Homo sapiens: one gene and its partners. The protein of the gene in region 2 purifies or fractionates together with the protein of the main gene of each other region. This does not show direct contact. Each region holds a gene or a part of one and is shown on either strand. Other genes may lie near its edges.

Evidence for each region.
Region 1: the proteins of ACAT1 (region 2) and TMEM65 fractionate together in Homo sapiens (co-fractionation; one large-scale study listed by BioGRID). This does not show direct contact.
Region 3: the proteins of ACAT1 (region 2) and PDSS2 purify together in Homo sapiens (affinity purification with mass spectrometry; one large-scale study listed by BioGRID and IntAct). This does not show direct contact.
Region 4: the proteins of ACAT1 (region 2) and NIT2 fractionate together in Homo sapiens (co-fractionation; one large-scale study listed by BioGRID). This does not show direct contact.
Region 5: the proteins of ACAT1 (region 2) and ABCB7 fractionate together in Homo sapiens (co-fractionation; one large-scale study listed by BioGRID). This does not show direct contact.

The regions. Positions count from the first base shown.
Region 1 is NC_000008.11:124,361,968-124,367,849, reverse strand, and holds part of TMEM65 (transmembrane protein 65), read left to right. Parts: intron 1-5,882. UniProt on the Homo sapiens protein: Essential for maintaining proper cardiac intercalated disk (ICD) structure and function as well as cardiac conduction velocity in the heart.
Region 2 is NC_000011.10:108,125,805-108,131,686, forward strand, and holds part of ACAT1 (acetyl-CoA acetyltransferase, mitochondrial isoform b precursor), read left to right. Parts: intron 1-2,081; exon of another isoform or gene 2,082-2,175; intron 2,176-2,838; exon of another isoform or gene 2,839-3,055; intron 3,056-3,298; exon of another isoform or gene 3,299-3,397; intron 3,398-5,882. UniProt on the Homo sapiens protein: This is one of the enzymes that catalyzes the last step of the mitochondrial beta-oxidation pathway, an aerobic process breaking down fatty acids into acetyl-CoA.
Region 3 is NC_000006.12:107,451,434-107,457,315, reverse strand, and holds part of PDSS2 (all trans-polyprenyl-diphosphate synthase PDSS2), read left to right. Parts: intron 1-5,882. UniProt on the Homo sapiens protein: Heterotetrameric enzyme that catalyzes the condensation of farnesyl diphosphate (FPP), which acts as a primer, and isopentenyl diphosphate (IPP) to produce prenyl diphosphates of varying chain lengths and participates in the determination of the side chain of ubiquinone.
Region 4 is NC_000003.12:100,336,980-100,342,861, forward strand, and holds part of NIT2 (omega-amidase NIT2), read left to right. Parts: intron 1-2,107; coding exon 2,108-2,226; intron 2,227-2,835; coding exon 2,836-2,956; intron 2,957-4,093; coding exon 4,094-4,182; intron 4,183-5,882. UniProt on the Homo sapiens protein: Has omega-amidase activity. The role of omega-amidase is to remove potentially toxic intermediates by converting 2-oxoglutaramate and 2-oxosuccinamate to biologically useful 2-oxoglutarate and oxaloacetate, respectively.
Region 5 is NC_000023.11:75,152,334-75,158,791, reverse strand, and holds the start of ABCB7 (iron-sulfur clusters transporter ABCB7, mitochondrial), read left to right. Parts: upstream 1-2,508; 5' UTR 2,509-2,519; coding exon 2,520-2,687; intron 2,688-6,458. UniProt on the Homo sapiens protein: Exports glutathione-coordinated iron-sulfur clusters such as [2Fe-2S]-(GS)4 cluster from the mitochondria to the cytosol in an ATP-dependent manner allowing the assembly of the cytosolic iron-sulfur (Fe/S) cluster-containing proteins and participates in iron homeostasis.

The DNA of each region.
Region 1 (5,882 bases), on a different chromosome or scaffold from region 2:
TCTATGTGAGTGGTAATTGTGTGCTTTTGACATTTTTTACCATTTATCTACGTCTGTATACATTAACCAAATAATTCTAAACTTTAATCTTGTAGTCCCCCATTTTTTGTGATTGTTTAAGGTAGGGTGAAGAGCTTTGTTTTGAGAACTTGCCATATAGTATAAGAGGACGTTGACAAAATGAAAGACTGAAAGATAAAGAGCTTATACTAAATTGAGTATCTAAAACACTTAAAAATAAATTAGGCTTTCTTATGGAATCCCTGTTCACTAGAGATCTTGGACCTTTAACAAGATTATCCTTATTTTTTTTCAGCCCATTGCTCAGGATTATGTGAGAAAATAGAAATTCTTTTCTTAAATTTTTTTTATTTTTTGAGACAGAGTCTCACTCTGTTGCCCAGGGTGGAGTGCAGTGGTGCGATCTCAGCTCAGTGCAACTCCATCTCCCAGGTTCAAGCGATTCTCCTGCCTCAGCCTCCTGAGAAGCTGGGATTACAGACATGCACCACTGTGATTGGCTAAGTTTTGTATTTTTAGTAGAGGTGGGGTTTCACCATGTTGGCCAGGTTCATCTCGAACTCCTGACCTCAGGTGATCCACCGAGCTTAGCCTTCCAAAGTGCCGGGATTACAGCTGTGAGCACCGTGCCTAGCCTAAATATAAATTATTTTAAGCTATGAGCCTCTGGAATGGATTGGGAATAGTTTGCTTTTGTCCAATAAGAAAAAGGGCAAGAAAAACATTTTATACTGCAAATAAAGATACGTGAATAAAGATATTTCAGTGCCTTTGTTGAGATAGTAAAAAGGAATAAGGGAAGTATAGCCCCACCTAGGCCCGGCAAGAGGGGAAGAACAAGGACGTGGATAAGAAGTATGAATTGAGGCAAGAGGAGTGAGAGATCTCTGATGAGCCATGGGCTTCTATAAGTTGAGTTACACTCAGTTAAATGAAGCTTTGCTACAATCAGTTATTTTACCAATATGGAAAGAACCTAATTACAGTAGTATATTTCAGCAAGCTTAATTCTGAGTTCTTTAGAGTTACGGGGTATGTTGGAATGGTCTTATTACTAGGGATTACTGCCAGTAGAAGACAGATAATCAAGTAATCAAGTAAAGTTTTTTTTTTTCCATTATGAAAGGCATATATGCTGTTTAACAGTGTTTAATCATCACTTACATATAACATGTCCAGAGTTACGTGTGACTTCAAATAACAACCCTTCTATCATAGCTCATGATTTTGTGGATCAAGAATATAGGCAGTTGCAGGTACAGAGTTCATAGGAAATAAAAAAATAAAATTGAAAAAAAAAGGATATAGGCAGGGCTCAGCTGGATGCTGTTTCTTATGGTATCTATGGAGGTCATTACATAAACTTTGGCTGGCTGATGGTCTGGTCAGAAGGTCCAACATCGGTTTGTTTATGTGTCTGGTACTTTGGTGGATGGCTGGAGGGCTGGCCTCAACTGGAACTGTTGACCCAAGGAGATGGATGTGGCCTCACCAGCATGACAATGTTAGCATGGTTGTAATACTTAGGTCAGGGATCCCAGAGAAAATGTTCCAAGGGGGCTGGGTAGAAGCTGTAAGACTTTGTATTAGTTTTCTTTCTCTTTTTTGAGACGGAGTCTCGTGCTGTCACTCAGTCTGGAGTGCAGTGGTGTGATCTTGGCTCACTGCAACCTCTGCCTCCCGGGTTCAAGCGATTCTCCTGCTTCAGCCTCCCTGAGTAGCTGAGACTACAGGCACACACCACCACACTTGGCTAATTTTTGTATTTTTAGTAGAGGTGGGGTTTTGCCAGGTTGGCCAGGCTGGTCTGGAACTCCTGACCTCAAGCAATCCTCCTGCCTCGGCCTCCCAAAGTGCTGAGATTACAGGCGTGAACCTCCACGCCCGGCCTGTATTAGTTTTCTATTGCTGCTGTAACACCACAAATACAGTGGCATAAAACAACATATTCTCTTAGAGTTGTCAAAGTACAAAGTCCAAAATAAGTCTTAAAGGACTAAAATCAAAGTGTCAGCAAGGCTCTGTCCTTCTAGAGAGTCCAGGGCAGAATGTATTCTTTGCTTCTTTCATCTTTTGGGATTCCTTGGTTCCTGGACACATCACTAAAATCTCTGCTCCCTCATTGACCTTTTTGCCTCCCTATTATAAGAACCCTCATGATTATATTTAGGTTTTACCTGGATAATCCAGGATAATCTCACTCTCTCAAAATCCTTAATTTAATTACACTTGCAAAATTCTTTTTGCCATATAATGTAACATATATACAGGTTAGGGAATTAGAATGTGGGATATCTTTGGGGGCCATTATTCATCCTACCACAGACTTGTTATGACCTAGCTTTTGAAGTTCCAGAACATTATTTCTGCTGCATGTAATGGTCAAGCAAGTCACTAAAACCAGTTCAGATTCAAGGGAAGGGAAATTAAAAGGAGGACAGAAAGGTGATTCCTTATCAGACTCTTCACCTCTCTATTAAATAAACTTTTGGGTAATTGTTTTCCTTGATTGTGTTGTCTCTTCACTTCTAAATTCTTGACTAAATTGTAAATATTAGAAATTTGGGAAATATGGCTTCCAGGTAAGTCAAACACTTATATGTATAGTTTAATTTATCAGTAATTAATTTGCTGTTTTTCACCTTAATAGTCATTTATTGCCTATTTTTTATTTGTGACAAATTGTTATGATCAAATTTGTGGATAGGAAAATTGAAGTAATATAAAGTCAGCAATTTATAGGGTCATCCAGAGGGTCAGGTGGAACTACAGATCACGATCTTGAAAGTTTGAGATGATGTGATATTTTGCCATTATTAGTGGAGATTGTTTTCATTTTTCTAAAAATAGTGATGAGTTTGCATAACCACACTCTTGTCTGGTTTCCTTTGGTGTGTCTGGGTATAAAATAACTTGAACAAATAGGGACTAAATCCTTGAGTGTAGATTTTATTAGCATCTTGCCCAAGTCATCTGAATTAGTTAGTATGTAGCTTTACAGGACTGTAGCCTTGTCTTTGACTCACAGGTTTATGTCTGCTTTAAGTAAAGGAAAACACATAAAAACAAGTAGTTATATATTAAAATTACCTCAGACAGACAATAAGAGGTAAGAGTAAATAAGAGGTTCTTGTAGATAAAAGACTGTAGGTAACAAAATCATTTCTCCTAAGCTCTGAGACATTTACTTTGATTGCTTTTGATGATAAAATATTTGAACATATTGCATTTTTTATCTGCCTTAGTAAAAATATAATGAGCATAATTTAGCTTCTACCAGATGTCGGAGTCCTTATATACTATATTTTAATACAATAAGTTTCTTTGAGGTTACTTCTATTTGTAGACATGCTAATCATTACACCAAATGCCTCCAGAACACTGCTGTTTCAGTTGGCATGCTTTTTAGACTCTGTCATAGTGGTAGTGAAATGTGCTGGGCTTAGTCTGCCCCTCCCTCCTCCTCAGTGCTCTCAGACTTTTCTACTCTATTCTCATTCATTCCTTGTAGTTATGGTAAACTCTTTTCTGCTGTGTAAGGAGGTCTGCTTCATGACATCCTGTTATTGTTTCTAAAGTCTGATTTTACTTCTGCCAATTGTCACTCTTCCATTGTGTTTAATTTTCTTCTTTTTCCTGTCTTTTTACTTCCTCCCTTTGCTTTTCAGCAGGGTTTAATCTTGATAGACATTTCAAGGATCACTGTTCTCTTTTGTGTTTTCAGCTAACTAGTTGCATCTATCACATTATTATTGATTTTTGACTCTAGCTCTTGTACTAAAGATCTTTCTTTGATAATATCCCTCATAATAGGTTTTATAGTAGATTCTACTGCAAAGGCTATGGTTGCACAACAAAATCCTTTACATTCTCTTACTAAAGTTGTACTAGATAATAGAATTGCTCTAGATTACCTACTGGCTAAGTGGGGAAGAATCTGTGCAGTTGTTGATACTTCTTGTTTTTTTTTTTTTTTTTTTTTTTTTTTTTTTGAGACGGAGTCTCGCTCTGTCGCCCTGGCTGGAGTGCAGTGGCGGGATCTCGGCTCACTGCAAGCTCCGCCTCCCGGGTTCACACCATTCTCCTGCCTCAGCCTCCCAAGTAGCTGGGACTACAGGCGCCCGCCACTACGCCCGGCTAATTTTTTGTATTTTTAGTAGAGACGGGGTTTCACCGTTTTAGCTGGGATGGTCTCGATCTCCTGACCTCGTGATCCGCCCGCCTCGGCCTCCCAAAGTGCTGGGATTACAGGCGCTTCTTGTTTTACATGGATGTCTACATCAGGTATTATGGAGATTCAGTTGTAGGGGATTAATGAACAGGCTGCTTGGTTGAAAATGCATCAGAATTAAGCAGTTAACTGTGGAAATGACTTAAAATGGTCATGGTTAAAGACACAATTGACAAGAAAATTTGGTTATTTCTGTGGCCTACAATAATTAATTTAAAATAATCACCATAATTAGGACTGATAACATACCAAGACACACCAGAATTTTAGGAGGCTTATACAATTTTGGACTATATATTAGTAACATATCCATAAACTATAACTCAAAGAAGATTAAACATCATTTCTTATTTGACAATGCTTCCCATGTAATTTAACTTACCAGATAAGCTTGTTTCTTATCTCTCTCTTGGATGCTGCAAGGACCCTCTGTGTAACGTCTCAAAGTTAGTTTGAGGTCAAAAGACTAAACTTTCAATTTGAAATTTGATTTTGGAAGTGCATCAAATTTGTCAAAGATTTAACGCACTTAATCAAAATAGGATCAAAGATCACTGTAAAATAATTGTCATACCTTTAGCCAAAGTGGTAATTAAAAGGTTTTTAAAAGCAAAACCATTTATTCTTCGATAGAGGATTGACTCTATTTTCCACACAATCAGAAATCCTAATAGATAGCATGAGATGGAATCTGTCTCTCCTCTCCCCTCTTTCTTTTTTTGCAGTTTACTTAAAAGGTAAACAAACACATTTACTCTTTCTTTCTTCTTAATACTACACAAAATTCTTGTTCAAAAGAGAAAACCAAATTTTACTTTTGTATTAGTATATTACCAATACTAAAACTACAGCTAATTTTATTAAAAGCTTATAAACAAATTGGATTTTCATAAACCTTTTATAATCTCTTAGCATTTTTTCTATTTTTTTTTTTTGAGACAAGAGTCTTGCTCTATCACCAAGGCTGGAGTGCAATAGCATGATCTTGGCTCACTGCAACCTCCACCTCCTGGGCTCAAGCGATTCTCATGACTAAGCCTCCTGAGTAGCTGGTACTACAGGCGTACACCACCATGCCTGGCTGATTTTTGTATTTTTAGTAGAGACAGGGTTTCGCTATGTTGGCCAGGCTTGTGTTGAACTCCTGACCTCAAGTGAACCACCAGTCTCTGCCTCCCAAAGTTGTGGGATTACAGGCATGAGCCACTGCGACCAGCCAATTTTTTCTATTCTCTTTCTTTTTCCACCTTGCTATATTAATTTAGTTTTATCTGTATCTTTTAAAAAATTCCTTCATTTTGAAACAACCTTCAAATATCTTCTAAACTAGATAGATGAAATTATTTTTTCTCAGCAAATACACATTTTCATGCTTTTTACAACTTTCCTTATCAAAAACATATCTTGGCCTGGCACAGTGGCTCATGCCTGTAATCCCAGCACTTTGGGAGGCCGAGGCGGGTGGATCACCTGAGGTCAGGAGTTTAAGACCAGCCTGGTCAACATGGTGAAACCCCGAATCTACTAAAAGTACAAAAAATTAGCTGAGCGTGGTGACGGGTGCCTGTAATCCTAGCTGCTTGGGAAGCTGAGGCAGGAGAAGTGCTTGAACCCAGGAGGCAGAGGTTGC
Region 2 (5,882 bases):
AGTCCCAGCTACCTGGAAGGCTGAGGCAGGAGAATGGCGTGAACCTGGGAGGCGGAGCTTGCAGTGAGCCGAGATCGCGCCACTGCACTCCAGTCTGGGTGACAAAGTGAGACTCCGTCTAAAAAAAAAAAAAAAGAAAAGACATGAAGAATAAAAATGAGCCAGCCATGGAGAGCTGGGAAGACTTTTTGTTTTGTTTTGTTTTTGATTTTTTTGGAGACAGGATCACACTCTGTTGCACAGGCTAGAGGGCAGCGGCGCGATCTCGGCTCACTGAAACTTCTGCCTCCTGGATTCAAGCGATTCTCCCACCTCAACCTCCCAAGTAGCTGGGACTACAGGTGCCCACCCCCACACCTGGCTAATTTTTGTATTTTTAGTAGACACGGGGTTTCACCATGTTGGCCAGGCTGGTCTCAAACTTCTAATCTCAAGTGATCCACCTGCCTCGGCCTCCCAAAGGGCTGGGATTATAGGCATGAGCCACTAGGCCCGGCCTGAGGAGACTATTACTGGCAGAGGCACACTGCAGAGACCTTGAGGTATCGGGATAGGGTTTAGAACAAAGAGATGCCAGTGGCTGGCACAGAGCAAGAGTGATGTAAATTTGGAGAGAAAACCTAGAGCCAGATCATGCAGGTTCTTGGAGGATGAGGTAAAGAATTTGTATATAATTCCAAGAGCAATGAAAAGCTGTTAAATTATTTTAAGCAGTAGAGTGATATGATCTGATTTACATTTTTCAAAGCTGGAGGGACTGTAGAGAGGTGTCAGGGGAGGCAGGGAACTAGGTAGAAGGCCATTAATAGGAACAAGAGATGGTGGCTTGGACTAGGTGGCAGCAGTAGACATGAGGCAGAGTGGACGAATTTAGTTATGTTTTGGACGCTGTTCACAGTATCTGGATTTTAGGGATTGCAATAAAGGGAAGGATGAAGGATGATTTTGGCTTGAGCACCTGAGAATACCGGCAACAAACAGGTTTTCTTTTTTTTTTTTTTTTTTTTGAGATGGAGTCTTCTCTGTCACCCAGGCTGGAGTGCAATGGCGCAATCTCAGCTCACTGCAACCTCCACCTCCCGGGTTTAAGCAGTTCTCTTGCCTTAGCCTCTGGAGTAGCTGGGATTACAGGCGCGTGCCACCATGCCCTGTTATTTTTTTATTTTATTTTATTTTTATTTTTTTGTATTTTTGGTAGAGACGGGGTTTCAGCATGTTGGCCAGGCTGGTCTGGAACTCCTGACCTCGTGATCCGCCCCCCTCGGCCTCCCAAACTGCTGGGATTACAGGGGTGAGCCACTGCACCTGGCCACAAACAGGTTTTCTAGGGTTGGAAATTGAGAGCTATGATTTGGACATTCACCTGCAGCTGTCAGGTTGGCGCTTGGGTGTGAGTCTGGTGGTCAGTTGAAAGGTCAGGGTTGGAGATAGAAATTTGGAAAATCATCAGCACATAGAAGCCTTTTTTTTTTTTTTTTGAGACAGAGTCTCACTCTGTCACCCAGGCTGGAGTGCAGTGGCGTGATCTTGGCTTACTGCAAGCTCCACTTCCCGGGTTCACACCATTCTCCCACCTCAGCCTCCCAAATAGCTAGGGCTACAGGTGCCCGCCACCACGCCTGGCTAATTTTGTTTTTGTATTTTTAGTAGATATGGGGTTTCACCGTGTTAGCCAGGATGGTCTCTATCTCCCGACCTCGTGATCTGCCTGCCTTGGCCTCCCAAAGTGCTGGGATTACAGGCGTGAGCCACTGTGCCCGGCCTCATAAATGCTTTTTAAAGCCATGGGACTGGATATAACTAAGGATATAGTGAAGTTAAATTAAAAGAGGCCTGGAACAAAGCCCTGGGACATTCAGCACTTGGAGGTTGGAAGGGGAAGATGAGATAGTAAAGGAGACTGAGGTAAATATGACTAATGAGGTAGGAAGGAGTCCACGTTTGTAATGGAAGCCAAGACAAGGAAGGGTTTCTGCAGTGGATTATACATATTACCTCATTTTATTCTCATAACAGCCTGTGGAGGGTATTTAAGAAAACCAAGGTAAGTGTGTCTAAGTAACTTGCTCAAAAATACTCAGCTTGCAGGGCACAGTGGCTCACGCCTGTAATCCCAGCACTTTGGAAGGCCAACGCAGGAGGATCGCTTGAGCCCAGGAGTTTGAGACCAGCTTGGTAAGATAGTGAGACTCTGTCTCTACAAAACAAACAAACAAAGAATACTGAGCTGGTAAGCCCAGGCTCTTAACTGCTCAGCATATTTCTCAAAGAAAGGTGAGCCCAGTCTTGCTGATGTGTTAAAAGGTTAAGTGAGACAATTATAGCGAGTTGGATTTTGCTACACAGACATTGCTGATGTTGCTCAGAACCAACAGTGGTAAACTGGCAGAAATAAAATCCTGATCTGAGTGGGTTGAACTGTAAAGAGGAGGTGAGGACAAGCAAATAGACACTGTAGGTAACCTGGAGAACCTTTCTTGCCAAAGAGAACTAAAGTAAGGTGAGGCCATGTGCAGTGGCTCATGCCTGTAATCCCAGCACTTTGGGAGGCCGAGGCAGGCGGATCACCTGAGGTCAGGAGTTCAAAATCAGCCTGGCCAACGTGGTGAAACCCTGTCTCTACTAAAAATACAAAAATTAGCCGGGCGTGGTGGCGCATGCCTGTAGTCCCAGGTACTCGGGAGGCTGAGGCAGGAGAATTGCTTGAACCTGGGAGGCAGAGGTTGCAGTGAGCTGAGATCGCACCACTGCACTCCAGCCTTTTTTCAAAAAGAAATGAGGTGAAAGCTCGGGAATGTGGGTCAAGAGACATTTATTTGTTTTTACTTTGTTTTTTAGGTGGGGGGAATCAGATCCTGTTTGTATGCTTATGGAATTATCCAGAAGTAAAAGGGGTGAATGATGTAGAGGAGAAGGAAGGGATAACTGTGCCATCTTTGAAAAGGCAACTGGAAATGGGATCCAGAGTAAAGTGGAGAGAACCAGGGAAGATTCCATTAAACTGGACCAGAAGCTTGAAAGAAGAGAAGTGGCTTAGTAAACAAGGAACAAACTAGCTAAGTAGAAAGGGGACTTTTAAAATTTAATTTTTATTTCAATAGGCTTTTGGGAACAGGTGGTGTTGGATTATATGAATAAGTTCTTTATTGGTGGTATCTGATATTTTGGTGCACCCATCACCTGAGCAGTATACACTGTAAACCAATGTGTAGTCTTTTATTCCTCACCCCCACCCCCCGCCTTTCCCCTGAGTCCCCAAAGTCCACTGTATCATTCTTATGCCTTTGTGTCCTCATAGCGCAGCTCCCACTTATGAGTGAGAACATAAGCTGTTTGGTGTTTCCATTCCTGAGTTACTTCACTTAGAATAATAGTCTCCAATTCCATCCAGGTTGCAGTGAGTGCCATTATTTCATTCCTTGTTACGGCTGAGTAGTATTCCATGGTATATATACCACATTTGCTTTATCCACTTGTTGATTGATGGGCATTTGGGCTGGTTCCATATTTTTGCAATTGCAAATTGTGCTGCTATGAACATGCGTGTGCAAGTGTCTTTTTCGTGTAACGACTTTTTTTTTTGAGATGGAGTCTTGCTCTGTCGCCCAGGCTGGAATGCAGTGGCGTGATCTCGGCTCACTGCAACTTCTGCCTCCTGGGTTCAAGCGATTCTCCTGCTTCAGCTTCCCGAGTAGCTGGGATTACAGACGTGTGCCACCACGTCCAGCTAATTTTTGTATTTTTAGTAGAGTTGGGGTTTCACCATGTTGGCCAGGCTGGTCTTGAACTCCCGACCTCATTATCCGCCCGCCTCAGCCTCCTAAAGTGCTGGGATTAAAGGCATGAGCCACTGTGCCTGGCCTTCATATAATGACTTCTTTTCCTCTGGGTAGATACCCAGTAGTGGAATTGCTGGATCAAATGGTAGTTCTAGTTTTAGTTCTTTAAGGAGTCTTCAGAAAGGGGACTTTTTGAAGAGATACAATGGGCAAGCACTAGGACATCCAAGGATAGGAAATAAAGTGCAGCTGGCTGGGTACAGGGATGTGTGCCTGTAGTCGCAGATACTTGGGAGGCTGAGGCAGGAGGATTGCTTGAGTCCAGGAGTTCTGGTTTATTTTTTATTTTTATATATGAAAATTTTCAAACAAAATAAATTGCAACTGACCCTGCCAGAACCCAAGCTAGAAAATCACTAACCAAAGCCATCTTTTGCCTCTTGTGGTGTGCCATGGTCTATTTCTCCTGTCTCTGAGTATATATGTTGCATTCTTTTGCTTCTCAGTGTATTCATGGCTTTTCTCTTTGTTCTAACCGCTGCTTTTCTGTGGCATTGGCTGGTCAGCTCCAGCCCCTTTTGACTTTTCAGTCCCAGTCCCCACCGTCATCCAACTGACCCAGTCTCTCTGGGTCCTAGCTTGGGTGAGTCCATTCCATTCTTGATCCCATCAGCTCTGGCCAGAGGCAGGGGAGTCACCTTGTAAGTACTTAGGGTTGTCCTTTGAGAAAGACATGTGTTTGGAGAGGCAGTGACCGGCATGTTTACTACAAGTAGGAACTTTTTTTTTTGTAAGTTTTTAAATTATTATTTTTTAAATTTATTATCATTTTTTGAGACTCGCTCTGTCGCCCAGGCTGGAGTACAGTGGCGTGATCTTGGCTCACTGCAAGCTCTGCCTCCCAGGTTCAAGTGATTCTCCTGCCTCAGACTCCTGAGTAGCTGGGCTTACATGCATGGACCACCACACCCAGCTAACTTTTATATTTCTAGTAGAGACGGGGTTTGACCATGTTGGTCAGGCTGGTCTTGAACTCCTGTCCTCATGATCCACCCGCCTCGGCCTCCAAAGTGCTGGGATTACAGGCATGAGCCACTGCGCCCAGCTACTGATAGTCTAATTTCAGATCAGTAGGTCTCTGAATTGTGTCCTGCGTTGTCAGAATTAATTAATTAATCTATTTATTATGGAGTTTCACTCTTGTCTCCCAGGCTGGAGTGCAGTGGCGTGATCTTGGCTCACTGCAACCTCCGCCTCCTGGGTTCAAGCAATTCTTCTGCCTCATCCTCCTGAGTGGCTGGGATTACAGGTGCCCGCTACCACGCCTGGCTAATTTTTGTATTTTTAGTAGAGACGGGGTTTTTTCGCCAAGTTGGCCAGGCTGATCTCTAACTCCTGACCTCCAGTGATATGCCCACCGCAGCCTTCCAAAGTGTTGGGATTACAGGCGTGAGCCACTTGCCCAGCCTACTGTTGACATTTGTTCCTAAGAAGTGTGGAAAGAACTGAGAAGTAGTAGGGGCAAGATGTTTACTCTTTCCTTTTTTAAGAAATAATTTATCTGCTATTATAGGTCATATTTATATGAGATGTGTTTGCCTCATATAAATCAGACAATTGTTGGAAGTGGATAGGGAGAAACAGCAAGTTTTACTTGAAAACAATCTTAAAAAATGAAAATATCTTGTTAGATTCTAAGACTAAATAATTTAGAACCTAGCTTTAACTCAAAACTACATTTTAGAAAGCTATATTTAAGAAAGACTTGGAATTTTTTTTTTTTTTTTTTAGACAGTCTTGCTTTGTTGCCAAGGCTGGAGTGTAGTCCCAGAATCTTGGCTCACTGCAACCTCCGCCTCCTGGGTTCAAGCTATTCTCCTGCCTCAGCCTCTGAAGTAGCTGGGATTATAGGCATGTGCCACAATGCTGGGCTAACTTTTGTATTTTTAGTAGAGACTGGGTCTCACCACGTTGTCCAGGCTGGTCTTGAACTCCTGACCTCAGGTGATCCGTCCACCTTGGCCTCCCAAAATGCTAGGATTACAGGCATGAGCCACCACGCCTGGCCAAGACTTGGAAATTTTAAGATAGTAAACTTAAGAG
Region 3 (5,882 bases), on a different chromosome or scaffold from region 2:
TAACATCTTTTGAAACGATGGTGTAATATCATAAGCAGGGTATTTATGTTGATACAGTTAAGATAAAGAACATATTCAGCACTATAAGGATTCCTCATGTTGCTTTTTTAGCCACACTCACTTCCCTTACCCACCCCTTGCTTTAATTTTTCGAGGCACCTGTCATTTTCTTACTACAAAAGTTATCAAATAGTAATAATAAAGTGATTTTATTCCTTGGCATCGTTCCCAGTTATCAGGAATGTCACCTTATGATTAGCTGGAATGTTAGTTTTCCAGAGATTCTAGATGATACACACTCAAAACACATACACATATGTTTAAAGCTTAATGAAACGAATAAGCCTACTATTACCCAACTTAAGAATTGTAACTTTACCAGTCCTGTTGAAGCTAAATGTGTACTCCTCAGTCCATCTCCCTGACTCCCACTAAACTGTTTTTAAACACTTTTCCTTTTCAAAATTACCAGGGGTCCTGGTGTGGTGTCTCATGTCTGTGATCCCAGCACTTTGGGAGGCAAAGTAGAAAGATTGCTTGAGCCCAGGAGTTCGAGACCAGCCTGGGCAACATAGCAAAACCCTATCTCTACAAAAAATAAAATAAATTAGTTGGGCGTGGGGATGCACATCTGTAGTCCCAGCTGCTTGGGAGGATTGCGATTGCTTGAGCTGGGAGGTCAAGGCTGTTGTGAGCCGTGATTGTGCCACTGCACACCTGTCTGGGCAAGAGACCCTGTCTCAAAATAAAATGAAATAAGTAAAATTACATTGTTATTTTTCTAAATAATAATGTTTCATTTTACTGGTTTCTTTGCAATGTACAAATATGATAGTTTATTGCATATGACCTTATGTGACTTCCTTTTTAAAATTCATGGTTTCTGAGATTCATCCATGTTGTGTGTTTAACTGTAGTTCATTAGGTTTTTACTGTGTGTGAAATTCTGTTGTGTGAATATACCATAGTCATCTTTTGTTTGTTTATTTATTTTCAGACAGAGTTTCACTCTTGTTGCCCAGGCTGGAGTGCAGTGGCACAGTCTCGGCTCACTGCAGCTTCCACCTCCCGGGTTCAAGTAATTCTCCTGCCTCAGCCCCCCAAGTACCTGGGATTATAGGCGCCCGCCACCATGCCTGGCTAATTTTTGTATTTTTAGTAGGGACAGGGTTTCACCATATTGGCCAGGCTAGTCTTGAACTCCTGACCTCGTGATCTGCCCACCTCAGCCTCCCAAAGTGCCGGGATTATAGGCGTGAGCCACCACGCCGGGCCTCACAGTCATCTTGTAATTAACATTTGGGTTGTTGCATTTGTTAATATTATGAAAAATGCTGTTATAAATATGTTTGCATATCTTTTGGTGTTCATGTCACGAGGATATAAAAACAAGAGCGTAATTGTTGGATGTGCACATGTTTATCTTTAGAATGCTTTCTAAAGTGAATGTACCAGTTTATACTCTCATAAACAACTTCTGAGTTCAGGTTACTCCTAGTTCTCATAACACTAGAACTAAGAGATTTCTTAAGTTTTTTTTTTTTTTTTTTTTTTTTTTTTTGAGACAGAGTCTCGCTCTATCGCCAGGCTGGAGTGCCCAGTGGCCTGATCTCGGCTCACTGCAACCTCTGACACCCTGGTTCAAGCAATTCTCCTGCCTCAGCCTCCCCAGTAACTGGGATTGCAGGCATGTGCCACCACGCCCAGCTAATTTTTGTATTTTTAGTAGAGAAGGGGTTTCACCATGTTGGCCACGATGGTCTCTAGCTCCTGCCCTCATGATCTGCCCACCTCCGCCTCCCAACGTATTGGAATTACAGGCATGAGCCACTGCGCCTGGCCCAGATTTCTTAGTTTTTGGTAATCCAGAAGGAGGTTTCTTTGTGTTTGATGGAAATGATAGTGTCAATGATAGGGGCTGTAGTATTGCATTATGAGTATTGTAGTCCATCATAAAGCACAGAAGTGAAAAGGGTGAAGCTAAAAAGAGCCTTATTAATGTGTATATTCTGAGAACCGTAGTTCGTCTACTTAGTTGCAATAGCATCAGATGAGGGTTTGGAGAAGATCTCTTCAGAGGCCACCAGAGGCATCCTAGATGAAAGTTTGTGAGACTAATGGTTCTGAAACTTTCCTAATTGTTGCCTAACCTGCCTTGTAGTACTATAGTACAGTGACAGAACTGGAAAGGCACAGAATAAGTAAGTTTTTGCAAAGTTGTCCTAGCATGTATGTGTTGCTGTATTTTGTAAGAAAAGAAAGAGCTAATCTGCATATAATTTTATTCTATTTACTACAATAATGTGTTGCAAATTATTTAAACAGCCTAAACTCATAGACAGCCAATGAAGAAACTTTTGGGGTGTGGATATGTATCTGTATATATTTGTATATACACTGTACACAGTTATTTCAGCAAAGGAGCAGGCATTTGATCCAGAGGTTAAGCAGGTAATGATTATTGTAAATTATAACTAAAATCAAGGATTAAGCAGCTGTATTTTTTTTGTTTTTTTATTTTTATTTTTTTGAGGCAGAGTCTTGCTCTGTTGCCCAGGCTGGAGCCATTTACTTTTCGAATAAAGCTACATGGTATGTTAGGGGTGAATCATGTCTAATAGCCCTAAAGTTTACGTGAATGGTGACTTTGTTAGCAAACAGCAGGAAAAAAAAAAAGGAAACCACCATAATTTGCTATTCACTGATCTCTTTACCTAAGACATCTTGTCAAGAAAAGGGAAAAACAGCCTAGATGTGACATATATTCTTTAACACTAAATGAGAAATGAGGTTAAAAATCTTGAGGTTTGGTGAGATAATGATTCTGTTACTAGGAATAGAGGAGCATTTAGCTCATTGTTACTCTTGTTCATCTAGATTTTCTAGGATCTCTCTGTTGTAAACTATAATTAGATAAATAATTAATTAAATGTTTATTGAAACTTATGAAGTGATATAAAGAAGTCTAGACCAGGTGTGGTGGTTCACACCTGCAATCCCAGAACTTTGGGAGGCCAAGGTAGGCAGATTGCTTGAGCTCAGGAGTTTGAGACCAACCTGGGCAACATGGTGAAACCCCATCTCTACAAAAAATACCAAAAATTATCCGGGTTGCTGGTGCATGCCTGCAGTCTTAGCTACATGGGAGGCTGAGCTGAGAGGATACCTTAAGCCCAGGAGGTCGAGGCTGCAGTAAGCTGTGGTCGTGCCACTGTGCTCCATCCTGGGCAATGGAGTGATACCTTGTCTCAAAAAAAAAAAAAAAAAAGAAGTCTGAAACATGGACCCTGTCCCTTGATGAGTTGACACAAAAGATATTTACAAATATCTAACAGAAGGAAACAAATGACTTGTGGTTAATGAGCTACCACATAGAGAGATGGCTTGGAATAGTAGAGAACCTTTCATGGAGAAATTGGGACTCCATTGAAGGATGGATGGATAAAAATTACATGAGTAATGTTTTAGGGTAGTAGTTATATAATATTTGTTTTTTTCCTTCATGATTCTTTCTTTTTTCCCCTTTCTTCTCCAGGCTACCATACCTCTACTAGGTATGGGGAAGACCTTAAAAGCAAGGATAAGCAGCATGAATAGAGCTAGAATAGTAAAAACTAGAACATTTTAGGATAACTAAAATGTTGGAAAAAGAAAGCATGGGTTGAGGAATCATTCCACCTACTGTTAAATCTTACTATATAGCTGCATTAATCAAAACACTGCGGTATTGGCAGAGGAACAGACAGATCAATGGAACAGAATAGAGAACCCAGAAATAGATTAACACAAATATGCCCAACTGATTTTTAACAAAAGTGCAAAAACAATTCAATGGAGGGAGGATAGTTTTTTTTTTTCTTTCTCTAAAAATAGGGCTGGAACAATTGAACATCATAGGCAAAAAAATGAACCTTGACCTAAACCTCACACAGTATTTTTTAAAAATCAATGTAAAATGGATTATTTGTGAAATCAATGTCCACTTAAAATGGATTTAAACATGAAATGTTAAACTATAAAACTTTCAGAAGAAAACATAGGATAATATCACGGCCGGGTGCAGTGGCTCATGCCTGAATTCCCAGCACTTTGGGAGGCTAAGGTGGGTGGATCACCTTAGGTCAGGAGTTTGAGATGAGAATCGCTCAAACCCAGGAGGTGGAGGTTGCAGTGAGCCGAGACTGCACCACTGCACTCCAGCTTGGGCGACAGAGCAAGACTCAGTCTCAAAAAAAAAAGAAAACATAGGATAACATCTTCAGGACCTAGGGCTAGGTAAGCAGTTCTTAGACATGACACCAAAAAATTCATAAAAGAAAACAATAATTGGACTCCATAAAAGTTCAAAACTGGCCAGGCGTGGTGGCTCACGCCTGTAATCCCAGCATTTTGGGAGGCCGAGGCGGGCAGATCACAAGGTCAGGAGTTCGATACCAGCCTGACCAACATGGTGAAACCCCATCTCTACTAGAAATACAAAAATTAGCTGGGCGTGGTGATGTGCACCTGTAATCCCAGCTACTCAGGAGGCTGAGGCAGGAGAATCGCTTGAACTTGGGAGGCGGAGGTTGCAGTGAGCCGAGATTGCGCCACAGCAAGCCAGCCTGGGAGACAGAGTGAGACTCTGTCTCAAGAAAAAAAAAAAAGTTTGAAACTTAGCTCTGTGAAAGACCCTGTAAAGAGGGTGAAAAGTTTAGCCACAGACTGGGAGAAAATATTTGCAAATCACATATTCAAAGAAGGGCTTGTATCCAGGTTATGTAAAGAAATCTCTGAACTCAAGAGGTTGGGTGCGGTGGCTCATGCCTGTAATCCCAGAACTTTGGGAGGCCGAGGCAGGTGGATCACTTGAGGCTAGGAGTTTGAGGCCAGCCTGGCTAACATGGTGAAACCCTGTCTCTACTAAAAATACAAAAATTAGCCGGTGTGGTGGTGGGTGCCTGTAGTTCAAGCTACACCAGAGGCTTAGGCAGGAGAATCACTTGAATCTGGGAGGCAGAGGTTGCAGTGAGATCGCGGCACTGCACTCCAGCCTGGGCAACAGAGTGACACTCTGTTGCAAAAAAAAAAAGAACTCTCTAAACTCAAGAAAGCAAACAATACAATTAGAAAATAGGGGAAAAAGCTTGTGCGGTGGTGCATGCCTGTAATCCCAGCTACTAGGGAAACAGAGGCAGGAGGCTTCCTTGAACCCAAGAGTTTGACTTCAAGGCTGCAGTGAGCTATGATTGTACCACTGCACTCTAGCCTTGGCAACAGAGCAAGACTTTGTCACTTAAAAAACAAAAAAGAAGAAGAAAGAAAAGAAAATGGGCTAAAAGAAAAACCTATAAAGGTAGCAAGTAAGCATATGAAAAGATGTTCAACATTATTAGCCTTTTGGGAAATGCAAATTAAAATCACAATGGGATGTTGAGGTGATCGGGCCCAACACCAGGCCCTGAGGGCTACAAAGTCTGGCGGGGTCAAAGGAATGAGAAAAGACAAGTTAAGAGTTCATAAGGTGTGTCCAGAGGGCCAGCGCTAGATTGGAGGCTGCAAAGGCCCCGAGCTCTGGGAACCCGCCCTATTTATTGGTGATCAAACAAAGAAGCAGGTGGTGAGGACATGAGGGTAAACAGGTGAGGGCATGAGGAGGTGAGAGTAGAAAGGTAGTGGTGCATTAAGTGTAGCTGTGACGGTTTAGCACTTCCTTTGACCCATATAGAATATGCTCTGCTGCTTGAGATAATGGAGGGCATGTTTACAAGAAAGAAGCAAGGAACCAACAAGTCTGTGCACATTCCAGAGGCTACGAGGGGTTTATGCCCTGAGCCCTGGATTCCATCAAAGCCACAAGGGGTTTTATGCCCTGGGCTTAGATTTGTGGTGCGGCAGTGTAG
Region 4 (5,882 bases), on a different chromosome or scaffold from region 2:
AGAGGTCCCTGCGGCCTTCCGCAGTGTTTGTGTCCCTGGGTACTTGAGATTAGGGAGTGGTGATGACTCTTAAGGAGCATGCTGCCTTCATGCATCTGTAACAAAGCACATCTTGCACAGCCCTTAATCCATTTAACCCTGAGTGGACACAGCACATGTTTCAGAGAGCTCGGGGTTGGGAGTAAGGTTATAGTTTAACAGCATCTCAAGGCAGAAGAATTTTTCGTAGTACAGAACAAAATGGAGTCTCCTATGTCTACTTCTTTCTACACAGACACAGTAATAATCTGATCGCTCTTTCTTTTCCCTACACTAATAATTCCTGAAGTTTTGCAGAGCTTCATAGATTATAATGTGCTTTGGATCCTTTACTGCTGCGTCCCACCAGACCATAAGCAGGAACTATGTATCCATCAGGGTCCAGACAGGACATGGAAACAACACTAGTAACTCGAACAAGGAAAATTATTTATTTATTTATTTATTTTTTTGGAGACTGAGTCTCACTCTGTCGTCCAGGCTGGAGTGCAGTGGCGCGATCTTGGCTCACTGTAACCTCCAACTCCCAGGTTCAACTGATTCTCCTGCCTCAGCCTCCTGAGTAGCTGGGATTACAGGTGCCCACCACCACACCTGGCTAATTTTTGTATTTTTAGTAGAGACGGGGTTTCACCACGTTGGCCAGGCTGGTCTGAAACTCCTGACCTCAGGTGATCACCTGCCTTGGCCTCCCAAAGTGCTGGGATTACAGGCGTGAGCCATCACACCCGGCGGAAAATTTTATATAAAAAATTATTATCTGGCCAGGCGTGGTGGCTCATGCTTATAATCGCAGCAGTTTGAGAGGCTGAGGCAGGAGGATCGCTTGAGCCCAGGAGTTCGAGACCAGCCTGGGCAACAAAGTGAGACCCTGTCTCTACAAAAAATTACATAATTAAAAAATTAGCCCGGCATGGTGGTGCATACCTGTGGTCCCAGCTACATAAGAGGCTGAGACAAGAGGATTGCCTGAACTGAGTAGGTCAAGGCTGCAGTGGACCATGTTTGTGCCACTGCACTCCAGCCTAGGCGACAGAACAAGGCCCTGCCTCAAAATAAAAAATATTAGCTAATGGAAAGTGATTATCATAAAAGCTAAAAGGGAACTTTAAAGAACAGAAGAAAAGCAAATATGATGTATAGCTACTACCTCCAGGAAGAAATAAGCTTGGAAGAGCCCCCAACCTCCTTGCTCCAGGGCTGAGCACAGACCTTGTCAGGGCTGGCTACATAATTTGTGGGGCCCAGTTCCCTTGTTCAGATAGCAAGAGAAAAGTGCTGTTAGCTTTTCCTTCTGCAGTATCTCTTTCAACCTCTCATGGTGTTATTTGCTGTTTAATATCATGTTCTCTTGGACACATGAATACTTATGGGGTAAGTGCAGACTTTTAGAGGTGCCTGGGACCCCTGTCCTGTGAATAGGCATGTGTGCAGCTCACTGGCTGCCAGGTTTTCCCTCTGCCAGCAGCGGGATCGATGTGCTGTGACCCAGCCAGTAGTGGGGAAACTGAGACAGACATCTTCCCTTCCCATGAGCTGGGCTGCTCATGGGAATTATGTGAGCAGCTTCCAAGGAATCACACTTTCTGTGCTGGGACATACTCAGTATATGGATTGGAGGTAGACGAGAGGCCCATGAACAAACAGTAAGGGACAGGACCATATTCAAACCCAGTCTTTTTACTTTAAGCCATATTCTCATTTCATTCCCTACACTGCGTAGTAAGAAGCTGGTTCACTCTAGATTCTTGTGCCTGGCATGGGACTTTGCCCATGGATATTGCTCTATCTCCAGATAGATTTTAGACTATTGACATTTTGGACAGGATAATTCTTCGTTGTGTTATGGAGGGGGTTGTCCTATGCATTGTAGGATGTTTGGCAGTATCCTTGGTCTCTATTCATTAGATGCCACTCATACCTCATCAGTTGTGGCATCAAAGGTATCTTCAGACATTGTCAGATGTCCCCCCGGGGACATAACTGCCTTCCATTTGAGAACTATGGCTCTGTCTGAATCCAGCAGTTCGATCTTCTGATAGCTGTTTTCTTTTGTCTTTGTTCTCAGCTTTCCGCTTGGCCCTCATCCAGCTTCAGATTTCTTCCATCAAATCAGATAACGTCACTCGCGCTTGTAGCTTCATCCGGGAGGCAGCAACGCAAGGAGCCAAAATAGTTTCTTTGCCGGTCAGTATGGGAGCAGCCATTCTGTTCTAGCCACTGTACACCCAAGCAGAACGGTGTTTGCTAGCTCTGGTTGTCCTCTTGTATCCTGGGGTCCAGCAGTGTCCCTTGGAGCCCATAGATTGTTCCGAGTCTGACTGGAGGATGACCTTAGCAAGGTTCTTTGTGAGATAGGATGTGCCAACACGGTCATAGGTCTTTAGGTTTTGGATCTTCCTCTTTGTTCAGATGAGGAAGCCAAAATCCTAGTATATTGAGGGACTTACGGAAAACTAAAATACTCAGTGCTTGGATACTTTGTTCCTTATTTAACTAAGTCTTTATAGAACCAGAACATATTGGTTTTAGCACTAAGCCTCCAACATTTTTTTTTTAAATGAGCTCTGGGAGAACACCTGTGATTTGTCTCCTCCAACCCACTAGGCTAGCTTTGTAGTCTTACCTGTGGCTACAGGCTCTTTACCCTTGAGATGTCAGTGTTTTTCTTATTAGCTGTGTTTTAACCCTTCGACTGAAAGCAGAGCTAGAAGCAGCAGCTATGGCCTCTTACAGCAGAACTTTAAAATGGGTGGGTGTTTTGATCTTTTTTTTTCTCTGCCAATATTTTTCTAGGAATGCTTTAATTCTCCATATGGAGCGAAATATTTTCCTGAATATGCAGAGAAAATTCCTGGTGAATCCACACAGAAGCTTTCTGAAGTAGCAAAGGAATGCAGCATATATCTCATTGGAGGTAACTTCCTACCCACAAGGTATAATGACCTAAACATTAGAAACATCTGAATGAGTCAGGTGTGGTGGCGTGCGCCTGTATTCCCTACTTGGGAAGCTTCAGCTTGGGAAGCTGAAGCAGAGAGTTTCTTTTTCTTATTTATTTATTTTTTTTGAGGTGAGGTCTTGCTTTGTCACCCGTGCTAGAGTACAGTGGTGTGATCATGGCCCACTGCAGCCTCACCCTACGAGGCTCAAGTGATTCTCCCACCTCCTGAGTAGCTAGGACTGCAGGTGTGCGCCACCATGCCTGGCTGATTTTTGTATTTTTTTGTAAAGACAGAGTTTCACCTTGTTGCCCAGGCTGGTTTTGAACTCCTAGGCTCAAGCAGTCTGCCCACCTTGGCCTTCCAAAGTGCTAGGATTACAGGTGTGAGCCATCATGCCAGGACTGTTTTTTACTATACTAATAGAGGATTGAGAAAAAAAATTTTTTTCCATAGAGGCCACATACATAAAGGTAGCTTTATTTTTGTGGTTTTGGAATAAATGTTTAAAGGTTTTATTTGCTTAAATAAAAAATAAACACAGAAAAATTCTATAAATATAGCAAATACAATTTTTTCTGTATGATGATATATTAAGAATTAGAAATGAAGGCAAAGCAAGAAGCCTGGAGATGAAACTGCATTCAGTGATGGAGAGGCTTCTGACTTTACGTTCTCATCTTTTGGGACACAGTTTTGTTGCAGAACCTGGTGAATTCAAGTTAAGCAATGGGAAATTTCTCATTTTGCCCTAATGTTACAGATTAAGTGTTACTCAAGATCATGGCTGAATTTCAGGAACAGTTTGGTTATTTTTTAAACCTGTCTTTGGCATCTAACCTAATCATATCCCATCTACACTCTGGAGTTTATCTCTGAAAGATCATATTCAAGAAGGAAAAAAAAAACCATGATTAAGTAACCCATAGAAGGGAATACTTATTCTGTATTATAGAATGAGGTGTTGCCTTATTCTAAAAACAAAATGAATAAATAAACCGTAAAAGATAGGTTCTTTATTTTTGGACCCAAGTTATCAGGCTTTTATCCCTTTCTCACAAAAGAATTGCTCTATTCTTTTTCTTATGGTATGTTTCTTCTCTCAATGAAAGGCTCTATCCCTGAAGAGGATGCTGGGAAATTATATAACACCTGTGCTGTGTTTGGGCCTGATGGAACTTTACTAGCAAAGTATAGAAAGGTAAGTAGGAAGTGTGGCATAAGAATTTGTTATCTCTAAGCCAGCAACAATGTGTGGAAAAAAAATTTGCTATGAAGTTCCCTAGTCCCTCTCATTATATCACACATGTATTAGGGTTTTGACTGATTGGCACAGGTGGTTATTCTTGGCCATTTGCATTTTTATATAAGTTTTAGACTCAGCCTGTCAATTTCTGCAAAGGAACAAGCTATAGTAATTTTTTTTTTGACAGAATCTCGCTCTGTCACCCAGGCTGGAGTATAGTGGCACAATCTTGGCTCACTGCTAGCTCTGCCTCCTGGGTTCACACCATTCTCCTGCCTCAGCCTCCCGAGTAGCTGGGACTACAGGTGCCCACCACCATGCCCAGCTAATTTTTTGTATTTTTAGTAGAGACTTGGTTTCACCGTGTTAGCCAGGATGGTCTCAATCTCCTGACCTCATGATCCACCCGCCTCAGCCTCCTAAAGTGCTGGGATTACAGGCATGAGCCACCGTGCCCAGCCAACCTATAGTAATTTTTATTAGTATTTCATTGAATATATAGAGAACACTGTGGGAAGAGTTGCCATCTTTTTAGTATTAAATGCGTATACATGACCAGGTGCAGTGGCCCATGCCTGTAATCCCAGCACTTTGGGAGGTCTGAGTAAGTGGATCACCTGAGGTCAGGAGTTCAAGACCAGCCTGGCCAACATGGTGAAACCCCATCTCTACTAAAAATACAAAATTGGCTGGGTGTAGTGGTGCACACCTATATAGTCCCAGCTACTCAGGAAGCTGAGACAGGAGAATTGCTTGAACCCAGGAGGTGGACGCTGCAGTGAGCCAAGATTGCGCCACTGCACTCCAACCTGGGCAAGACAGAGCAAGACTCCATCTCAAAAAAAAAAATCATATACATTTAGTATCATTAAGTCTTCTTGATGAGTTGACCCTTTTATCATTATGAAATATCTCTTTTTTTTCTTGTAATACCTCTTGTCTTGAATTCTGCTTTATCTCTGCTATCACTATAGCCACTCCAGCCTTCTTATGCCTAATGTTTGCTGGTACGTGGTTTTTCCAGTTCTTTGTTCTCAAGCTATATGTGTTTTTATATTTTAAGTGGATCTCTTTTGTCAACAGCATATAATTGTATCTTAATTTTTTCTTTATTCTGACAATCTGTGTCTTTTAATTGAAGTGGTTAGTCCATTTATATTTAATGCACTTATTGATATGATTGAATTTAGGGATAGAGACATTTTACTTTTTTTTCCCTTTGTTCATCTTTTCTGTATTATTTTGGATTAATTGAATATTTTTTAGAGTTCTGTTTTAATTTATCTATTGGCTTTTTAGTTATACATCTTAGCTTTTTTTTTTTTTCCAGTTGTTGCCCTGGGAATTATCATATGCATCCTTAACTTTTCACAGGCTACTTAAGAGTTCATATTATATCATTTCATGTGAAATTTAAGAACCTTATAATGATATAGGTCCATTTTTCTACCCCACTGCCCCTGCCCTCATTCTTTATGCTATAGTTGTCATTTGTATTCCATGTATATATGTTATAAATCCCACAAAACAGGAATACTTGATTTAAATAGTCATATGTATTTTAAGGAAATTAAGAAGAAAAAAATCTTTATGTTTACCCAAATATTTATCATTTCTGGTGTTTTTCTTTCCTTCCTGAAGATCCTCCTTCTATC
Region 5 (6,458 bases), on a different chromosome or scaffold from region 2:
ACCTGAAAGATAAGAAAAAGTCATTTAAAAATCTACAGGAAAGATATTCCTGGTAGAGGGGAAAGCAAGTGGAAAGGTCCTGAGGTGAGAATAAGTTCTGGTATTTTTTAGAAACAGAAGACCACTGTGGCCTTCTTAAATTGCTCAAGTGTTTCTTCCACATTTCAGGTGTTATTAAGTGAAAAGAGCACTATGTTTGGAGTCATAAAACCTAGGTTTGGTCTCCATCCCATTAGCTCTGTGGCCTCTGACCTAGTCACAACTTTTCTTAGCCTCAGTTTCCTCATAAATATGGGCATATTAATAAATAATACCTATCTTCCATGGTCGATGTGAGGACTAAATGAAATAAGGTATGACAAAGCGGATTGTAAGTTACAAAATACTATACACATTTAATTATTGCATACATAAAGTGCTATCATGTGATCTGTGGTTGTAGCAGCTATTTATAGCAGCTTTTATTGTGTATACCTCTGTCTCTTTAATTTATGTCAGACAGTTATGTGTCAAGTTATTACAGGCTGAGTTGGCCTTTTTGTTGCTGCTCTTCCCCAGCAGTGTGCAACTCTTATTATGCCTCACGTTCTATTTCTGGGTGCCCTGGAAATTTTCTTCGGCTTATTTGGCAAATAAATATTTGCCTCACTTTAGCTCATCATAGAGTAACAACTTGGGTATTTCAATGTTATTCACACTTTTTGATCAAAACAGTTGGCTTACAATGAGCACTACTTTTGGAAAAAAATAATTTGGCTCCATTCAAAGACTTTACAACTGGGTGGTAAGATTCAGTGGCAATATTCAGCCCTAAGAGAAATCATTAGTAGAGTCTAGAGTTTCTCTAATGTATACTGTAGCTGTCTAACACAGAATAGATGCTGAATAAATATTTGTTGATGACAATATAGTCATTAATATGAAGCCATTACTGATCTACTGTCAACAATACAATAATAAGCTAGAAACATCCAATTAGTCACTAAGTCTTGCCAATTCCATCTCCTAATTGCCCTGCAATCGATCTACTGCCACTGCTACTGCTAGGTTGAGGCCTTTATTTTATGACTGAACTATTGCATTAACTTCATGACTTCAATATGAACTCCGTCCAATCCAACCTTCTCACTTAAGCCAGAGTAGCTTAATGGACATATAAATCTGATCATGTTACTCTCCTGATTAAAACTCTTCACTGGTTATAGGATAAAGTATTAACTTCTTAGAATGAAATAGAAGGCCCTTTACCATCAGGTCTCTGTTCACTCAGGTTAACCTCCTACTACTTTCCCAAACTCCATAGACTCCTGAACCTGAAAATATTTTCTTATGCCTTCTTGCTTTTAACATGTCATCTTCTTTACGTGTAATTCCAGTCAACCTCTTCAACTTGAATTCTATTTTTCTTTAAATAACTAGCTCAAGCATCCCCTTGAATGAATCCCAGAACAAAAAAGCTAACTGCATGGGCTACAGATTTCTGTTTTTCTTTATCAGACTTACTAGTCCAAAGTACCTCTTCATAAGAAGTCCATAATTATTTGTCTCTTTTGTGTGAAAAGTTGGAGAATGCAGCAGTGAATATAAAATTGCAACTGCATTATTGTCTCCGGGGTTTCAGGTAACATTTACAACTGGAAATGCAGTTTCCTAGATAACTGTAAACATATTTTGACATTTTGTTTGATAATAGTGGTGACAAAAGAATATAAGCCTGTCTTTAAACATGGTCTTCTCTCCATACATTTCACTTTACCACCCTTCAGCCAACCTAAGCGATTTTTCAAGAATTAGGGACGCTGCAAAAACCAAAGCGAAGAGCTAGAAAGAGTGACAAAATTAGTAAAGATGTCTGTAGTCTCTCTGTGTGTGTGTGTGTGTGTGTGTGTGTGAGACTGTCCCACGAGCAACAGACCAAAGGAAAACTGCCCCAAGGTTTGCGCAACAGAGAACAATCAGCAAAGTTAAAGTCCTTACAGGACAGAAAAGCAGTAAATCTTACAGCTGAAGCCTCCTCCCAGGGGAAATTAACGTCTGTAGTTTAATCTTTCCTTAATTCAGAAGGGAGTGAAGATAAGAATATGCATAGGGAAAATGGAGAGAGGGGAGCGTGACATTGAGTTGGAGGAGGTAAGAGAGTATTATGAGAGACAAGATGGGGTTGACAGATTTAGCAGATACAATATTTGGGACACACGCACGAAGAGATGATTCGTTGTTTATGTAAAATTGAAACTTAACTAGGTAGGCATCCTGTATTTCATCTGGCAACTCCAGGAAAAGAGAAAAATACAGTGTTACTCCAATATTCCCGGTTGTGTAAGGAAAACAATCAAAGCTCGGCCCTAAGGAAAAACAAATAAAAGAGGCTGTGCGAATGCATCCGAATCTTCAAACAGAATCCATTTCCGGTCTGGGGCCCTGGGAAAACAAGAAGAGGAGAGACAATTAAGGTAGCCGAATTCAGTCCGCCAGTGTCCCATAATCCTCTTCTCTCGGTTCCTCTTTCCTCGCTCAAGATGGCGCTGCTCGCGATGCATTCTTGGCGCTGGGCGGCCGCGGCGGCTGCTTTCGAAAAGCGCCGGCACTCCGCGATTCTGATCCGGCCTTTAGTCTCTGTTAGCGGCTCAGGTCCGCAGTGGAGGCCACATCAACTCGGCGCCTTGGGAACCGCTCGAGCCTACCAGGTGAGATGCCACTGACATGGAAGAATAGGGTGAAGGGCAAGGGGACCTGTAGGGAAAAGGTTGCCCTCCTGACCTCGGGGCAGAGAGAGCACCAAGAAGAAAGTCATGGCTAACTGGGAGCAGCAGTAAGTGAAGGAAATTAACGTCAGTAATTTGAGGAAAGGGCGAAGAAGAAAACCTTTGAGTTCAGCAAAGGGAAACGGGGCAGGAGGTTCTGGGCAGAGGACACCTGGAGCGCTGGAGGCTCTCGGAGTCATAGTTTTTCTCTCATATTAAGAGTTGGGGTAGACACCATTCCCAGCCTGCTTGCCTTTCTAAAGACGAGGAAGACTGGATTATTTTCCCCAATTAGTAATGGAATTTGGGACAGTTTATCTGTGGTTCAGATTTTACTCAGTTGGAATTAGCAATTCGGAGAGCACTGTAATGACAGCAAGCTATCTATAAACAGGTGGCGCCAGTTAACTCCCTTGCTGACAGGCGTGCTTCTTGATAGGCCAAAACCGTAACTATCTTTCCAAAACATAGACCGCCCTAAATTCTTGTATAAATATGACTGTCCTAGATCTGAAAAATACAGTGATGTTCTCTGTGCACAGGTCATTTTGGAAGCCATAGGCTACTTATCCTTAACTTATGAATGTAGCTATGGTTGTAGTGCCTCCTAAAATTTGAGTCCATTATTACCTCTCACTCAGGAACGGTTTTTTAAAAAATTATTTGTACTTAACTGTACTAAAGTATATCTTTTTATTTTCTGTGTATTGACAAGAGGTTTAATTGCCACCACGTATTTATCACTATCACTTTAAAATATTGTCAGTTTTGTATGAGAAACAACCTCTTAAATTTTGATTCTTCATCTACAAATATTTAACGTCTACCTTGTACATAGCCCTGTGCTAGATGATAGGGTACTAAGAGAGACATACAGTTATGCCTTCAAGGATTGTACAGTTTAGTTAAGGAGATTGGATCTATGCATTACAAAAATAACTGAAAAACACAGTGGTGGGTTAATTAGCAAATGAATAGTATGTACAATAAAGGCTATAGGCATCCAGAGGAAATAGTGATAATTAAGGACCAGGTTATAAAGAGTATTTCATGCTGGTGATAGAACTGGGGAGAATGTTCTGAACAGGGAGAATAGGGAATGACACTAAGCATGTGGAAGGCTGATGGAATGACATTTATAATTCATTCAGTAATTATTGAACACCTCTACAGGAGCAAACAAAATATAAGTCCTGTCTTTAAAGAGCTTAAAATCTAGTGGGAAATATGTAAATTAATCGGCAATTAAAATATAGTGGAGCTGTGTAATAATGGGAAAGGTACAAGGTATGGGACAGTATATGTGAGGGGTATTAAGTCTAATTGTAAGGTAGTGAAGATTGCCTTAAGTAACTGATATCTAAGGCAAGAGCTGAAAAATTAGAAGTTAGCCAGTTAAAGAAGGAATCGCATGTGCAAAGGCCCACAAGTCAGAGAGAACATGGACCTTTTCTAGAACTGCACGTAGTTTAGACTGTAGTGAGTCATTCAAGATAGGAAATAGCAGATTAGGCTAACGAAGCGAATCTAGATGATTTCATTAAGGTTTTTAAAGTATTTTATGGTTGAAAGTTTCTAACACATGATCTCTTGGGAATGGTTTTTGTTCTGTAGTTCTCCAATAAGGCAGATGAAGTTAAGATAAAATTTGTAAATGTTATCTTAGATAAAATTAGATATCTTAAGATAAAATTTCTTAAGCTGGAAGAATGAGGGGGAAGAGGGAAAAGGAGAAGTTATTAGGAATCTCAGAGGAGGCAATGGCAATACAAATTTAGCTTTCTCTCTTTCCATGAACGCTATCTCCACAACTTCCTTCTTCCACTCTGTCCTTTACATCCTACCATTTCCTTTAGTTACCATTTCCTCAGTGTGCAAAACAAGGGAAAGATGTTACCTTTGTTTTCTGTTTCTTAAAGGCATGGAACTCTTGCCATCCTTTTTTTAAAACAGGGTGAGAAAGGAATGATTACAAAGTTTTCAAAGTAGAAGCTGAGGTAACCTGAGGTACCTGCAAATTTGTGACTTGTGATTAAGATTACAAAATAATTACTGAATTCATACTTTTAGGACGATCATTAGTATATAGCATAATATTTTAGAGCTGAAAGGAACCTTAGAGCAGTGTTATGAAATAATGTTAGTGGGTTGGATTAGCACTTTTTTAGATGAAATTCAGTAGAATATAAAGAAAATAGCAGTGCTTTTTACATCTTAAGTGAAGTATTGTTTCATGAACTTTTATGTGTATATACACACACACATATATATTTTATATATATATATACACACACACACACGCACACACACACACACACAGTCCCACATGTATGTGATTACTGGAATTCATTGTAAGTATTTCTCACCCAGTATATGCCCTAGACCTGGGTTGTGGAATATGGTAGTTCTTTTGGATAGGTACTGTTTTGTTTTCATTTGTTGGTCTGACCTCATGGACCAAGAATGGGAGCTTTAATTTCTCCCAGTAGCAAGTTCCACCTTCCTACTCTTCCACCATTGGCTGCTAAGAGTTAGCAGAGTAGATAAAAATTAAAATACTTTACTCCTGGCTTTCATATTAACTGAAGTGGGAATATAATAACAACACTAGGGAAATAATCCTCCTATTCTATATTTTAGAGGTTCTAGTTCATATTTAAATTTAACAATATAAGATGCCTATGAAGAAACTACAGTGATTATTCAACAGTCGTCCCAAAATATACTAAAAGAATAGAAAACAGAACTTATTCATCCTGGCTAACATGGTGAAACCTCGTCTGTACTAAAAATACAAAAAAAATTAGCCGGGCATGGTGGCGGGCTCCTGTAGTCCCAGCTATTCGGGAGGCTGAGGCAGGAGAATGGCGTGAACCCGGGAGGCGGAGCTTGCAGTGAGCTAAGATCGCGCCAGTGCACTCCAGCCTGGGCGACAGAGCAAGACTCCGTCTCAAAAACAAGCAAACAAACAAACAACAACAACAAAAACAGAACTTACAAGAGAAATAAGGGTGTCTTTAAGTGGATTATAGATCATGGAACTGAAAAGGGTGAGAGGTGATTCAGTGACATTTAAAGTACCTGAAGCGGCCTGGCCCAGTGGCTCATGCCTGTAATCCTAACACTTTAGGAGGCCAAGGCAGGTGGATCACCTGAGGTCAAGAGCTCGAGACCAGCCTGACCAATATGGTGAAACCCCGTCCATACTAAAAATACAAAAAGCAGCTGGGCATGGTCACGTGCACCTGTGACTACAGCTACTCAGGAGACTGAGACAGGAGAATTGCTTGAACCCTGGAGGCGGAGGTTGCAGTGAGCCGAGATCGCGCCACTGTACTCCAGCCTGGGCGACAGAGCGAGACTTCCTCTCAAAAAAAAGAAAAAAAAAAAAGGACCTGAAGGGGTTATTTGTAGTTCAGTGATGCCTAAACTTAACTGGAACATTAGGTTATGATACAAAGATGTGGACTTCATTTGCAGGAAGAGGGATTTAATGTGCATATGAGAAATAATTTCTTAGACTAATAGTCTATCTTAGTCTGTTTGGGCTGGTATAACAAAATACCATAAACTACATGACTTATAAGCAAGAGCAATTTATTTCTCACAGTTCAAGGTGCTGACAGATTTAGTGTCTGGTGAGGTCTTGAGGTTCATAGGCGGTGCCTTTTAGCTGTGTCCTCATGTGGTAGAAGAGACAAGGCAGCTCTTTGG